2 separate regions of the Homo sapiens genome follow, and region 2 is linked to region 1. A link means that fine-mapping ties the variant in region 1 to the expression of a gene that starts in the linked region. Tissue or cell type: putamen. Region 1 holds a variant in brackets; the other region holds the start of a gene. All regions are shown on one strand. Distances are between the middles of the regions.

What was found. PIP is the estimated chance that this variant, and not a neighbour inherited with it, causes the effect.
Region 2: MGMT starts here. The variant in region 1 is fine-mapped to the expression of MGMT in putamen (GTEx, PIP 0.91).

The regions. Positions count from the first base shown.
Region 1 is chr10:129,780,548-129,788,649 of GRCh38, forward strand. LOC107984281 (a long non-coding RNA gene) reads left to right here. Exons shown (of 11, transcript NR_186705.1): 2 at 4,402-4,759. Among named protein-coding and RNA genes, the nearest start is that of MIR4297, 59 kb to the right of the region's middle. The variant G/A (reference allele first, on the strand shown) is at 4,577.
Region 2 is chr10:129,464,037-129,472,138 of GRCh38, forward strand. MGMT (O-6-methylguanine-DNA methyltransferase) reads left to right here and starts at 3,205. Exons shown (of 5, transcript NM_002412.5): 1 at 3,205-3,260. RefSeq lists silencers at 2,845-3,284, 3,305-3,504 and an enhancer at 3,071-3,993.

The DNA.
Region 1 (8,102 bases):
CTGGAACCCGTGAATGTGATCTTATTTGGAAAAAGGGCCTTACCAGATATGATTACGTTAAGGAGCTCAAGATGAGATCATGCTGGATTATCCTGGTGGGTCCTAAATCCAATGACAGTTGCCCTTATAATAGACAGAAAAGGGCCGGATGCAGCAGCTCACGCCTGTGATCCTAATACTTTGGGATGCCAAGGCAGGAGGATTACTTAAAGCCAGGAGTTGAAACCAGTCTGGGCAACTTAGCAAGACCTTGTCTCTCTAAAAAATACTTTAAAGATTGGCCAGGCAGGTGGCACACACCTGTAGTCCCAACTACTCAGAAGGCTGAAGATGGAGGAGGATCACTTGAGCCCAGGTGGTCAAGGCTACGGTGAGCTATGATAACACCACTGTACCCCAGCCTGGGCGACAGAGAAAAAACCCTGCCTCCAAAAAAGAGAAAAGGGGAAGACACAGACGCAATGGAGAAAGCCATGCAAAGACAGAGGCAGAGATGGAAGTGATGGCAGCCACCAGCTGAGAAACACCTGGAGTCACCAGCAGCTGGGGGAGGGAAAGGAGACTGCTCCCCTCACGCCTTCGGAGGGAGTCTGGTCCCGCCAGCACCTGATTACAAACTCCAGAACTGTAGGAGAAGACATTTCTGCTGCTTTCATCCCCCCAGTTGGTGGAATTTGTTGCAGCAGCCCCAGGAGCTCCTGCAGCCACCTCACCTGCAGAACAGGGATGGCAGCGGCCGCCCTCACGAGGCCATACCCAGGTTCCAGTGAAGGCGACCTGGCTTCCTGGCATGTGCAGAGTGCTCAGATTGTGGTGGCGGCTCCTTGGCTTCCTGGCATGTGCAGAGTGCTCAGATTGTGGTGGCGGCTTCAGGTTAGATTTTTGCATCAGACAAGCCCAGGTTCCAGTCCCTAATTCCTAGCTGTGGGACCCTCAGGGATGTATTTGCTCTCAGAAGCCACAGCTGCCTCACCTGAGGAAAAGCAGGCACGTGTCCACCCTGCAGGTCTTCTTTGGCATTTAATGGAAAGTTCTTTCCGTTGCCCATGCAACGTGCCTGTCATTTTGTATGACGGGGTAATGCCCAGACCACTGACTTCAGTACCCTAGGCCGTCCCTGAAGGGTGGGGAATTTATGCAGCGTCTTTTCTGGATGGAAAGCTGTTGAACATGGAGGTTCGTGGGATTGTGATGTGCACCTGGCATGGGTGTGTAACATCACAACTGGATCTTTGACGAACCTATAACTGGGGTTGCAGCTTAAGGTGGCCACCCTGCGAGACTGTGCCCTATGTCAGGGACACTCAGAAGGGCCTCTCTGACAGCAAATGCCAGGGGCATTTATGAGCCACATTTTTAAAAGCAGCAACAAATAAGGATTCCCAAAGCCCATGCCCCCCACTGGCTAGGCCTGCCTCTGATGTCCACGACAACATTCACAGCTAAGCTTGGTCACTGGGGACATGTATTTGCTCAAAAACAGCAAGGTACATTTTTAATACTAATGGCATCAAAATGAATCCTAAAGCCACTGTAAATAAAGCATTGTAGGGCCAATGCCACAACAGACATAAGTAGATCAATGGAGCCAACTGGCCCGTCCAGAAACAGCCACAGGTCTGTGGAATCTCAGGATGTCATCATATGGCATTTCAGTTCCGTGGGGAAAGGAGTCATTTAATACATGGTATCAGGACAAACTGGCCAAGCTATTTGGAAATAACGCAATTCCAGAAACCTTAGGGTTCTAAACATTTGTTAAATTGGGTTTTAACTGTTACTGTATCAGCTGAAAATAGGAGAAACATGCATCCATGTCTGCATTTGCAGGAAGTGCCTGAGAACACGGCAAGAACTCAGAAGCTGGCCGGGCACAGTGGCTCACGCCTGTAATCCGAGCACTCTGGGAGGCAAAGGTGGGCGGATCACGAGGTCAGGAGATCGAGACCATCCTGGCTAACACAGTGAAACCCCATCTCTACTAAAAAATAGAAAAAATTAGCTGGGCGTAGTGGCGGGCGCCTGTAGTCCCAGCTACTCGGGAGGATGAGGCAGGAGAATGGCGTGGACCCGGGAGGTGGAGCTTGCAGTGAGCCGAGATCGAGCCACTGCACTCCAGCACTCTAGCCTGGGTGACACAGCGAGACTCCATCTCAAAAAAAAAGAACTCAGAAGTCATAAAGAAGAAGGTTGACTTGCCTGACCTCATGAACCTGTTGGAAACAGAAGACAAATGGTACCCTAGGAGAAACCATTGGCAACATGTAAGACAGAAAGATTGTGTCCACAATATATAAAAAACTTCTACAAATCAATAAGGAAAAGGCAAACCACCCAGAAGATAGATGAGCAAGGAATATAGACAGGCACTTCGTAAAGGGAAACATACAAGCAGCAGCTGGAAGCCTCTAGAAAGAGCAGCAGAAGGACCCAGTAAGCTTGAGAGTGATCACCTGGAGTGACCTCCAGGGGACCTCCCACCTCACGAGTGATCATAGCATGACAAATTAAAGCAGGAGATAGCATTTTGTTGTGATCTGGGTGAAAAATGCAAACGACGTGTAATTCTTTGTCCACAGTGTAGAGAAGGGGCAGGCATTCACTGTTGGTAGTAATGTTGGCATGTTTTTGGAGGGTAGTGAGGCAGTATTGATTAAAATGGTAAATGCCTATGCCATTTGACCAAACAATTCCACTTTTAGGAATCTATTCTACAGAGTTATTTCCATGAGTATATAAGGCTGTAGCTACAAGGATACACATGGCACTGTTGTTTGTAACAGCAACAAATGGGGAACAGCACAAATGTCCCATGGGCATGGGGTTGGCTGGATACATCCCAGTAAATATGTCCACACAACACAGAACAATTCTGCTATTAAACGTGGTAGAGTAGCCCTCTATTTACTGACATGGGAAGGTAGTCATGACTCACTGCTGAGTGAAAAAGGCATATAAGAAAACATCAGGCTGGGTGCGGTGGCTCACGTCTGTAATCCCAGCACTTTGGGAGGCCGAGGCGGGCAGATCACAAAGTCAGGAGATCGAGACCATCCTGGCTGACACGGTGAAACCCCGTCTCTACTAAAAATACAAAAAAAAATTAGCTGGGCATGGTGGCGGGCGCCTGTAGTCTCAGCTACTTGGGAGGCTGAGGCAGGAGAATGACATGAACCTGGGAGGCAGAGCTTGCAGTGAGCCGAGATCGCACCACTGCACTCCAGCCTGGGTGACAGAGCAAGACTCTGTCTCAAAAAAAAAAAAAGAAAAGAAAACATCAGGTACGATCAGTGGTGTTTTATTAAACTAAATTTTTAAATTGTGCTTACAGACATAAAATTGTGGAAGAGAGATCATCAGATTATTTGCAGGAAGACATCTTAGTGGAAGTTGGACAGTTGGAGAGAGCTGCTTTGGTTGTGTGCCTATGTGTGAGTGAGTTGGGGAGAATTACTTTGGTGTGTGGGCCTGTGTGTGAGTGAGTTGTGCAGAGTCGCTTTGGTGTGTGGGCCTGTGTGTGAGTGAGTTGGGAAGAATTGCTTTGTGTGTCTGTGAGTGAGTGTGTCTGTGTGTGTGTTGTGTTGCTTTTCAGAGTTATTCAACTCTTATAAAAATGTCTTTATTTTCTAAGAAAGAAATAGTTGTTATCACTTTGAAAATATGATCCATGATTGTGTTTTAAAACTATATATATGGCCATGTTGTAACATTTTTTAAAAAGACCATCTGCAGAGCAAGGTGCTTCAGTGATTATCTCAGCACGAGGAAATCACTTCATTTTTTGTGTGCTTAACTGTACATTCTCAATTTTTGCCATGGAAATGCATTATGTTTGTAATCATAAAAGAACACACTTACTGGGTGAAGAGGAAGGACCCTGACACATGTACTAAGAAGACAGCATGGGCCCACGCATCTGACCACGTGACTGGTGTCACGTGCTTGACCAGCTGTTTATCAGCTTCGCCTCTCCACTTGCAGGGCAGCTGAGCACAAATACTCCAGGTGAGGTCATGCCCAGCCTGTCATCAGATAGCACATCAACATAAATGCAGTATCACTTCAGGGCTGTGAGGTCTCAGAGGGAGGGGAAAGGGTGAACTAGAAAATGAAGAGGGGCGTCCTGAAGGAGGTGGCAATCAAACTGCATCAGCTGGAGCTGGGCAGGACATAGAGGGCATCTTGAGTAAAAGAAGCAACTGGACTCCAGGGAAGAGGAGAGGAGGGCCCAGGTGCCACGGTCCCTACAAGATGAGACTTGGGGACTGGAGGGCCAGGCTGGGAGAGGGCAGACCCCTTTGCCATGAGCACAGGCAATGTGGGGCCAGTTCTTAGTGACATTTCAGATGGTGACCAGTCAGAGGACAGCAGGACGTGGTGGTCATCTACTCTCTTTCACAGGGGACACAGTGGGCCCAGCACCCCGGCCACATGTGATGGAGCCTCCAGGCCTGCCCAGCACCTACTGCCCTGGGACAGGCTCTCTTTCAAGTCAGCTCCTCTGTCCAGGAAGCATCTGAGAGGCCCTGTGGTCCTGGCCAAGGAGGCAGGCCGTAAGGAGGGCAGGCCCGAGGAC[G/A]TAGGTGTGGCAACACTCCGTGTGGAGTAGTCTCTGAGGCCAGACCTGCGGTTCCTGTTTCCTGTGCCCTGGGGACCCAGAGAAAGAAGACGGATGGGCGCTGCAGTGGGGCGGAGCAGGCCTGAGCCCAGCTCGAGGAAAGCTTGCCTTCTCGTCTAGTGTCCCCGTGTTTTACATAATTAGGTAAGTCACTTAATGTCGCTGTGTCTTGTTAGAGAAGCTACTAATCCTTAGAGCTAACAGAACTAACTAATTAGTGTAGAACACTTGGAAAATATAAGAAATTCAGATGTAGAGTGTAATGTCCCAGTCCTCCCGGCATTGATGCTCGCACAGTGTCCCTGGTAGAGCCGCGGGCCTGGCTGCATCAGGAGGGATGGGTCTTGGAGGCGGTGGCATAATTGAGACACCTGTTCTGAAGCCCCAGGGCTGCCGGCCACACACCCTGCCCTGCTTAGCCAGCTGTAGGCCACGTGGGGACAACAAAAAGGGAACTATCCAGGGGCCATCTGCCTTGCTACCCCGGCACCTTGAGGCAGGGGCAGCCAGGTCAGGGGACCATGGGCTCAGAGCCCGTCGGAGCCACAGGGAGGTGCTGACATGGCCTGAGGGCTGGAGCTTCCCCCTGGGAGTGCCTGGGCTTCCACAGACTGGTGGTGGCCGAGGTCAGGGGAGCCGGATGTGGCAAGCCCCGGGTTTGGCTCTGGACACTGCCCATGACTGGCCATGCCTCAGCAAACCTGCTTTGCCCTCCGCCTTCTCTTCTCTGAAACGGAGCTAATGACGCCGCCTCGCAGCTCCTCCAGAAGGTAAAGACGGGATTACGGGACACCTGGCACACAGCCTGGCGGATGGCACTCACTGCTGTTTTCCTCCGTGACAGAGAACCGCAGAACTTCCTTCACAGTTGGCGAGCTATTCAGAAATGATACCCGAGTCCGAGGCTCGGCCTTCACTCGCTCCAAGCTCCGGTGGCACCTGCAGCCACCTGTAGGGTGTGCCTTTTCCTCTAGTATTATTGGAAATAAGATAGACAATCAAGTGTTCACTTCCTAAGGATGTATGGAGCTGTCGGCAAATCATTAATCTCTCTTTAAACCACGGTGACAATATTTACATTTAAGATCAAGATGATGATTATCTGAAGAACTCCCCTGGAAGCTCTTCTCACAACTGGAAAAACACAGCAGCCAGTTAGCAGAGCCACGTCCCAGGCCAAAATAACTGCCTGACAGTCCACGGGGCCAGGAGTCTACAGGGTGTTGGCGTGGGGAGGCGTGCTTCCCGCAGAGGCTGGAGGGCTGCTGTTGGCAGAGTAGATGGAGCTGCTCGGGGCACAGCATTCTGGCCCAACCTTGCAGGAATGTGGTTCTGACAAACCAGCTGGAGAAAAGCATTTCTGAAAAGAACTGTTTTAAGTTATTAAAAAAAAAAAAAAAGAATTTGGGGGCCTGACACGGTGGCTCATGCCCGTAATCGCAGCACTTTGGGAGGCTGAGACAGGTGGATCATCCGAGGTCAGGAGTTTGAGACCAGCCTGGCCAACATGTTGAAACCCCATTAGTACTAAAAATACAAAACATTAGCCAGGCATGATGACATGTGCCTGTAGTCTTAGCTACTCAGAAGGCTGAGGCAGGAGAATAGTTTGAACCTGGGAGGCAGAGGTTGCAGTGAGCCCAGATCACGCTACTGAACTCCAGCTCGGGTGACTGAGTGAGACTCTGTCTCAAAGAAGAAAAAAAATGAAAACAGAATTTGTGACCAAATGGTGCAGAAAACAACTGAGTCACAACAGAAGTGAAAAGCCAGGTAGTGGGTGTGCTGGGCACGGCCTGGCCAGGCCTTGGTTCCGAGAGAGAACCCCCGTGCCGTCCAGCACTGGGGGAGGCGTCCTCTAGGAGCTGCTCATTTCAGTCTTTTGTGCTCCTCATGCTGCTGTCAAGCCTGAATGATCAGCCCAGGACTCTCAAGGGGGTGTGAACAGCTTGGCGTGGTCTGATCAGGCCACTTTCCTCGTGTTGGTCTCTACATCAGGGCACTGGCATCTTTAGCAAGTGTTTTAGGAAACAGGTAACATCATCAACAAAAGCCAACATGTCTGCTCTTGATCAAGCACCTCCACATATATTGAGACCCCTGACGCCCACAACATCCTGTTAGATACTGTATCTCCGCCATCCCAGGACAGGTAAGTGCTTTGCCCTGAATCACCTCACTTTTCACCAGGATGTCTAGACTAGGGCCTGAGTCCATCACCCCAACATCTGTGCTGATCCTGCTAGGTAATGACGCCCCTTCCTTATCGTTCTAGAGTCAAGCCTAGATCCCCTACAAATACCCATGCACACTTAGAGCTCACTCTGGTTAAATGTTCCAAGAAGGATGTTGGATGGTCACTTGGTATCATCCCATGGAGTTCAGGATACCCCCGCCCTCTGAGCAGCCATTCCTCTCCCGAGCACATTCCCCTAGAGAAGCTCTGCACGTGTGCACAGGCACCAGCTGCAGGAGTGCCATCCACAGCACAGCTGTTTATGAAAAACCGTAATCAACCCAAACATCTGTATGAAGAAAAACGAAGAAATGCAGAGTGGCATGTTCACATGATGGAATACTATGCAGCTGAGAACATGAACAATTGGAGCCATGGCATGAATGAAGCTGAGAGATTTGAAGCGTCAACCAAGTAAGCTGTAGGAGATTACATGTGGTGGAAGACTAGTTTATAAATCTCACAGACAAGCCTTAAAGAAAATGTATCTCTTGAAATAAATGTATACACACAATTATACACATATATATGATAAACCCTTTTAAAAGGCAAGGGAATGATCAATAAAAACATAAACTGTTCCCTCTGGGCCAAGGCGGAGGGCAGGCCATCAGATCAGCAGGAAGTTGATCTGGTTTTGAATTGGGTTGTGTGTGCACTGGAGTCAAACATTATTTTACAGAATATATTTCATATATATTTTACACATATTTGCTTTTTTGTTTCAGATATTTCACAAGTTTTTAAAAATGTAAGCAGGTCATGAGGCCGCTGTCCAGGACAGCAGCATGCCCGTTTCTGGTGATACTTGGTGCAGAGGGTAACTCCAGCAGCTGTGCGTGCTGACCCCTCCAGCCAGCTCTGGGCAAGGGGTTGTTTCCTCCCAGCTCAGTGGCTGAGCAGAGCTCCAGCTGGCGAAGGACCCAGGCTCTGCCAACATTGTGGACATCCCCTCCACAGGCCCTGGGGTGCCCTGTGCAGAGGCAGAGGGTGACCGGGAGCAGTGGGCAGAGCCCGGACCCTCCTATCCCGGGAGGAGCCTCAGGTCCTCTTTGGCAAAGAGCAGGATCCGGTAGCTTGAGAAGCTGTGCAGCTGCCGCTGGGTGCACCCTGTCACTCAGCAAGGCAGCTGCTCCGGAACAGGCACTGCTTCTAGAATCCACTTCCTTCTCGCAGGACCAGATGTGTCAGCAGGTGACAAGAACAAGTCCAACGCCACCTCACAAGGGCTTTGGCTTTGGGATCCCCTAC
Region 2 (8,102 bases), 320 kb before region 1:
AGTGGTCTCTAATGTCACAAAAGTAGCTTGGGAAGACAGGCTTATTAAACAAATTTCTTGGGTTGCAAATCATTAGAAGCAATCGCATGTCATGTTCATTTGCTTAACCCGAAAGGTATCCATTTGGATGTTTAAAGAAACTATGCAGATTAACATTGTTCCCAGTGCCCACAAGAAAGCTGGCTGATCTTAAAGGAAATCCAGGGAGCTCCTTGAGGAAGTCGGACTGCAGTTGAGCATACCCTTTTGTGGTTTTCCCACCTCTTTTGTAAAAAGTTCTTCATAGGAATCTGTGTCTGGAGGAAAAGGGGTTGTGATTTGTTAATCTGAAGATGGGAGACCTCAAAGGAATCTCACCCAACCAGTCCTGCACTGTCATCCTATGAACAGAGAAGTCAGGTGGTTGCTCAGTGAGGGGCAGGGCTGGCACCACATCCGAGCCTCCCTGTCCTGTGTTCCTTACTCTTCAGTGGACCCGGCGACCTCCCGGCTTTGGAGCCATCCTGTGTTCCTTTAACAGTAGGACGAACACACAGGCGATGATGAGATTGTAATGGGACAAGGGGGAGAGGCGTGGGGAGCTCTTGATGAAAACTTGGGTTTTTGAAATTACCATGATGAAGGGAGGAGCTTGCACCAGCAGGTGTAAGGAGTGTGAGTTTGAGTTCTGCTCATCAGACAGCCTAAGCAGTCACATCCTTGAATCCTGGTCTTTTGCAGGCCAGTCCTTGGTCAGGTGGTGGCCTTTTTCCTCTTTCCCCTCTGCACTGAGACCCTTATTTGGCTCCTGATCCTGGAGCCCCTGACACAGTCCTTACCACTGAAGTAGCTGTGGCCCTTCACATAGTTCTTCCCACCACGCCAGCAAGGGGACTGAGTTCTTTCAGTACAGCCAGGGCCAGGTCCACACATCTCCCTGGGAAGCCAGCACTTTCTCTCGTGGACCGCCTCCCCATTCCCACAGGGCCCTCCTAAAGGGCCTTTGGATGACCACATTGGCCTTTCTTTCCTAGGGTGGGGAATTAGAGATGCTAAGACTGGCCAGTCTCTTTTTCTTAAGAGTTTAGGGATTCGTCTTAAAATATTATTCAGATAAACGTATGAGTCATGTGTTAACTGCAAAACTACTTAACAGCACACTTGTTAGAATATCAGTCGGCACTCTGATTCCATTTCGGCATTGTTTTTCCTTTGGTTCTATTAAGATCCCGGTTCTAACTGGGTCCTGGTAGTAACAGGCTGTAAGTGGCCAGGTGTATAGCATTATTTCTTAGTAGTGTGGTGTGGTGCTGGTGGTTTATTTTCCCTATGCACACATGCCCTAATATGGAAGGATAGTTTGTACACACGTAGGGTACGTTATCATGAGACTCCTTTACAGAGTATGAAACTGAGGATTAGAGAAGTCAGACGAGTTTCCCGAAGTCTTATAGAAGGCTAATGGAAAAAACCAGAGCCAAGGGCAAACATGTTTCATCTGTCCTTCCACATTAGTTTAAATGTGAATGGCTGCTTGGAACACAGTGTTGAGAAGGATTCCGAGGCTGTGTCCAGGTTCAGTGGGGAAAAAGTGCCTTGATTTGACCATTATATCGTGTACTCAGGGCCTAGTTTATTTCCCACAAGCAGCTATTTAAAACATGTCTCATCCAAGGCAGGGTCGGGGTGGGGAACCTCAGAGGATCAATGATGCAGCCTGTATTGTCACCAGGGCTCATCCCAAAGCAAATCCTGCTGAAGTTCTCCTCTGAACAACCCTTATCACTCATGCTAATATGTTGGATCCTGCAAGTCACAAATACGAAGGTATGAGCATTGGCCGAATCCCAACAGGGAAACTTCACCGGGAAGGTGAAGACCCCTTTCCATTAAGATAACAAACAGAACCTAGAAGGCCCGTAGCATGGTGGCTTAGAACATGTGGGCCTTGGATGGGATCCTGCCAAGGGGTGTGTGACCTCTCCGAAGCCTCCAGGGATGATACTACTCCCTGGGGTGCTTATGCCAACCACGTTAGAGACAATGGTTTCTGTACCCATTGCCTGGGGCTGCCATAATAAAGTGCCACACACTGAGTGGCTTAAAACAACAGAAACCTATTGTCTCACACTTCCGGGGGCCAGAAGTTTGAAACCCAGGTGTGTTAGGATCCTGCTCCCTCTGAAGGCTCCAGGGAAGAGTGTCCTCTGCTCCCTCCGAAGGCTCCAGGGAAGGGTCTGTCCTCTTAGGCTTCTGGTGGCTTGCAGGTGCAGCCCTCCAATCCTCCTCCCCAAGCGGCCTTCTGCCTATAAGGACACGAGTCATACTGGATGAGGGGCCCACTAATTGATGGCTTCTGTAAAGTCCCCATCTCCAAATAAGGTCACATTGTGAGGTACTGGGAGTTAGGACTCCAACATAGCTTCTCTGGTGGACACAATTCAACTCCTAATAACGTCCACACAACCCCAAGCAGGGCCTGGCACCCTGTGTGCTCTCTGGAGAGCGGCTGAGTCAGGCTCTGGCAGTGTCTAGGCCATCGGTGACTGCAGCCCCTGGACGGCATCGCCCACCACAGGCCCTGGAGGCTGCCCCCACGGCCCCCTGACAGGGTCTCTGCTGGTCTGGGGGTCCCTGACTAGGGGAGCGGCACCAGGAGGGGAGAGACTCGCGCTCCGGGCTCAGCGTAGCCGCCCCGAGCAGGACCGGGATTCTCACTAAGCGGGCGCCGTCCTACGACCCCCGCGCGCTTTCAGGACCACTCGGGCACGTGGCAGGTCGCTTGCACGCCCGCGGACTATCCCTGTGACAGGAAAAGGTACGGGCCATTTGGCAAACTAAGGCACAGAGCCTCAGGCGGAAGCTGGGAAGGCGCCGCCCGGCTTGTACCGGCCGAAGGGCCATCCGGGTCAGGCGCACAGGGCAGCGGCGCTGCCGGAGGACCAGGGCCGGCGTGCCGGCGTCCAGCGAGGATGCGCAGACTGCCTCAGGCCCGGCGCCGCCGCACAGGGCATGCGCCGACCCGGTCGGGCGGGAACACCCCGCCCCTCCCGGGCTCCGCCCCAGCTCCGCCCCCGCGCGCCCCGGCCCCGCCCCCGCGCGCTCTCTTGCTTTTCTCAGGTCCTCGGCTCCGCCCCGCTCTAGACCCCGCCCCACGCCGCCATCCCCGTGCCCCTCGGCCCCGCCCCCGCGCCCCGGATATGCTGGGACAGCCCGCGCCCCTAGAACGCTTTGCGTCCCGACGCCCGCAGGTCCTCGCGGTGCGCACCGTTTGCGACTTGGTGAGTGTCTGGGTCGCCTCGCTCCCGGAAGAGTGCGGAGCTCTCCCTCGGGACGGTGGCAGCCTCGAGTGGTCCTGCAGGCGCCCTCACTTCGCCGTCGGGTGTGGGGCCGCCCTGACCCCCACCCATCCCGGGCGAGCTCCAGGTGCGCCCCAAGTGCCTCCCAGGTGTTGCCCAGCCTTTCCCCGGGCCTGGGGTTCCTGGACTAGGCTGCGCTGCAGTGACTGTGGACTGGCGTGTGGCGGGGGTCGTGGCAGCCCCTGCCTTACCTCTAGGTGCCAGCCCCAGGCCCGGGCCCCGGGTTCTTCCTACCCTTCCATGCTGCCAGCTTTCCCTCCGCCAGCTGCTCCAGGAAGCTTCCAGAAGCCCCTGCGCGGGCCTTGGCTTGCAGCAACCCTTTAGCATACTTAGGCAGAGTCCCATATTTCCTTCCTGCTGGAGGCCAAGTTCTAGGGGCCTTCTGGTTACTATGGCTGGTGTTTGTGTACATCATACCCTAACTGTATTCATCAACACTTAGAGTAAGCAAGGCTCGCTGGAGAGCCACACACACTGGGCACCGTAATGTCGGTTATAACACCGCAGAGGAGTTCTGAACTATGTATTTCGCACTCCTGGGTTCATCATCTCCTGAAATCTCAGGGTGGTGTTTGCTCTCAGTTGCTTCAGCTGAGTAGCTGGCTTTCTGTCCTGGAAAGCAGACTTTGTACATGTGTGTGCAACCTATGCCTGCTGAGATCATCATCAGACAGGGAAGCGGCTTGGTCCAGAGAGCTGTTCTCAGTAGAATGTTAAGCACAGAGAGCTGAGAATTAGACTGGTTATTTACATAGACATCCAAATAGAAACCTATAGAGTATCTGTTAAGTCAGGCTCTCCCGTCATCTCCCCCATCCCTGGGCAGGTGTCTAGGAGATGGTTTTGTTATTTTCAGGGCCCTCTCAATGGCTAAAACACTCTGGGAGATGAACAAGATTTTAAAAACCCAAAGCTTAGCGCACCTGGTGGGTGGGGGTGTGAAAACTTTGAAGGAAACCGCGTCAAGAGCCTGGCTGATTGTTAATATCACGTTAACTCAGAGGGCCAGGATACTTGCCCAGACCCGGAGTCTGCCTGCAAGTAGCAGAGGAGAGCTGGCCTTGCTCTGCCGCGTGTCTTTCTTCCTGGGCCCTCTGTCTCGGGTTGGAATTTGAATAGTGGAGTAGTGTCTGCCACAGTCAGGGGCCTGGATGAAGTAGACCACCAGTACGGAGCTATACTCAGGTACTTTTCAATGTATATATCTTCATTAAAAAAAAAAAATCTGGGCCAGGCACAGTGGGTCACGCCTGTAATCTCAGCACTTTGGGAGGCCGAGGTGGGTGGATCACCTGAAGTCAGGAGTTTGAGACCAGCCTGGCCAACATGGTGAAACCCAGTTTCTACTAAAAACACAAAAATTATCCAGGCGTGGTGGTGCATGCTGGTAATCCCAGTTACTTGGGAGACTGAGGCAGGAGAATTGCTTGAACCTGGGAGGCGGAGGTTGCAGTGAGCCGAGATTGCGCCATTGCACTCCAACCTGGGCGACGAGAGTGAAACTGTCCTGAAGGGGAAACAAAAAAATCTGTATCAAAATAAGGATTTAACTAATAGTATTAGGCACTACTTTAAAAAGGCTTTGCTGTTAGTAAGGTTGAAAGAAATAGAGCCCTAGGTATACATTGGGTAGCACCTTGTTCAGCTGCTCAGATTCTTGAACCTTGTTGAGGTCTTACTTTGATATCACCTGGGCCTTACTTTTCGTTGTTTGGGTTTCCTCCCCAGGTGTCTCAATCAGGGCCTCCTCTGTCCTTTTGCAGGGAAGAAGGGGGTAGGAAGGGCCTGAAAAAGAACTTGCCTTCCCCATTGCCCCCTCAGAGTTTGTTCCTCTCCAGTCCTCTTCCCACCCTTTCTTAGGACACCAAAACCCTGACTCTTTCAGTATTTTATAATAAAATAAAGTTACTAAATTGTCTGTTCTGTTTTGCAGAGGACACACATTTAGGAGCCAGTGATTCAGACCTTCCATTTTTCTTTTTGGTGCTAATGCTCTTTTCAGTATATTCTCTTTGATAGAAAAAAAATGGAGGCAAAACTGAATTTTCTGCATTATCTTTTCCTTTAGCATTATTCTTGTTTCTGCACTTCATTCTGACCCCCTTCCCCAGCATAAAGTTCCATGTCCAGATCCACTTGCCCTGAGATTTTTGACTTCCGTTTGGGACTCTAGTCCCTCCAGGGGACACATTGAGCCTCCCAGACCCTGCAGGGCCCTGTGCTCATTCGGCTCTTGGGCTGTTGCTACGGTCCTTCCTGACCCTCTGTTTCCTGGGACAAGTAGTTTTTAATGCAGCTACTTTCTGAAAGAGCTGGGGTCTTACCGCAGAATATTATTTTATTATTTTTAGAGACAAGGTCTTGGTCTTTCGCCCAGGCTGGAGTGCAGTGGTGAGATCATAGCTCCCTGCAGCCTCAAGCTCCTGGGCTCAAGCGAACCTCCTGCTTTGACCTCCCAAGTACCAGGGACTACAGGTGTGCGCCACCATACCTGGCTAATTGTTGTTGTTGTTGTTTTTAGAGGCCAGGGTCTCCGTATGTTGCCTAGGGTGGTCTCGAACTCCTGGACTCAAGTGATCTTCCCTCCTAGGCCTCCCAAAGTGCTGGAATTATAGGCATGAGCCACCATGCCTGGCCTCGCAGGATATTATTTAAACGAAACCTGAAGGATTTAAAATCAGAGAAGACACATAAACCATCACCTGACTGTGGGGTGAGAGTGGTCTTTATATAGACACTCATGATGCACAAGCCAGCCCTTCGCCCCACTCTTGTTTTGAAGTGAAAGGATTTATATGGGAGGGAGGAGGTTTGAGCTGTGCAGGAGGGTCCTTGGTTGGCATGAGGATTTTGTGAACCTACGCTGTTAGCTCTGCAGGCCTGTCTTGGACATAGGTAAGTAGAAGTTGGAGACCTTGTGTTGTGGACCAAATGTTGCAAGATGTGTGTTCTGTGGCTTTTCATTAACTGCTGCATATCTGCTGGTTGGTGGACATAGTCTAGTTTTCTTTTGACTTAAAAAAATTAACAGTACAGCTTATATCGGAGGGCTGCATAGTTTGGGGGAAACTAATGAATATAGTATGGAATGTAATGAATGACTGACTTCTTCATAGAGCTATTGAAGTGATTTATGAAGAGGAAGAAATCATTTTTGTGACTTTGTTGATCTTTGAAGTATTAGAGTGGCTTTGGCAGGTGTGGATCACCCGGAAAGGAATCAAACACTGAGTCCTGCCAAGGTGCTCGGTCCCGGCAGCAAAGCCAGTCCTCAGCAGCCTGCGCTCCCGAAGCTCCTCCAGCTAAGTAACTGAATAGGCCGCCCTGGGAGCTGCCCATGCGGATGCTCTGAATGGTGAAACTTGGTTTTGACACCACAAGTTGTTTTCAGTTAAATCAGTGGCTCAGCAGCAGAGCAGGGTTCTCCAAGGAGGCCTCGTGTCCCCTTCACCCCACCTGGAGGTAGCTGTTCTAAAACCAGTAAAAAATTCTACAAAAACATTTTCTTAGGGTTGTTAAATTAGTCATAGTGTGTGTAACCATGAAAGGAATGGTGAGAGTGCAATAAATGCCTGGTGTGTTCACTCTCCTACTCCTAAAAGTTTCTTGGTAGAATAATTTCCTACCTGTGATGCTTGCGAAGTCAGCAGAGGCTCCCACCCAGCCCTGCCGCCCATTCCCAGAAGTCTGGGCTGGGGGACACCGAATGGATAGTCCACCAGCGGCGTGGCTTGTGAAAGGAGGTACTTGTTAAATCTATGTGTTTTTATTATAGACATCGTTCTGCCAGTCGCAATAATGTGTTTATGGACATTTTTCTGCAAGCACAGCGCGGGTGGCAGTTTTTACTGACAAATTGAGTCATATGCATAGAGGTTTAGAAAGCGCTTGCCTTATTGACGGATCAGGCAATTCTGGCACGGGATGTTCAGAGATATTTAGGTGGGTGAAGAGAGTGAATGAATCTCAGGGCAGAGAAGGAGATGGGGCATTATATGTTGAAATGCAATAAATAATCGCTAGTTATTTATCATTTGTTTTTAAACTTTTAGCTACATTGTACTTCCCAGTCAAGAGGACTCCGGTGGGCAGCCGGGGATATCATGTTCAGGTGTCTCTCCTGCTTGTGTGGGGTAAGAGCCACTACTGGAATGCGATTCCAGCAAGGCCTGACGAGTCACAGCCCCTTGAACCTGTTGCTCTCCGTAAAGTGGGATCTTCACAGGCAACAGTGGAGGAGCGTTTGAGGGTGACCTGGGCCCTCTGCATCAGAATTACTGTGGGTGCTGGCTAGAGAGGTCTCTCGATTGCAGGGCCCCATGGGAGACCTACAGGACCAGAACCTGGGGATGCCAGGGGATTCTGGCAGACCCTAATGCTTGAGCACCTCTAGGGAAGGCCTTAGGATCCTCTGGGAAGTAGCACTCTCCAGCCCAGGCAAGATCCGAGTCCCCCTTCCAGAAGTATCCATCGGCAGTTGGCATTGCTGCAGGTTTTCTGTGCATATGGGTCTGAGTACGGTTTTGTAACTCCTGAGAGACGTGAATCTCTTCAAATTGCAAACCCAACATGTTATTATTGCTTTTGAGTTTTCAGTTTTGTGGTTATGACAAGATGCAGATGTTACCAAAACTTTGGCGTCAGTTTTACAAACACACGCGAAGCACGGGCAACCCGTATCATATTTCACCCCTTCTTTCCTTTTGAGAGGGTTGTCTTGTTTTTAATCCCCCTCTGGGTCAAGGCATTTTCCTGGTCTCAGGT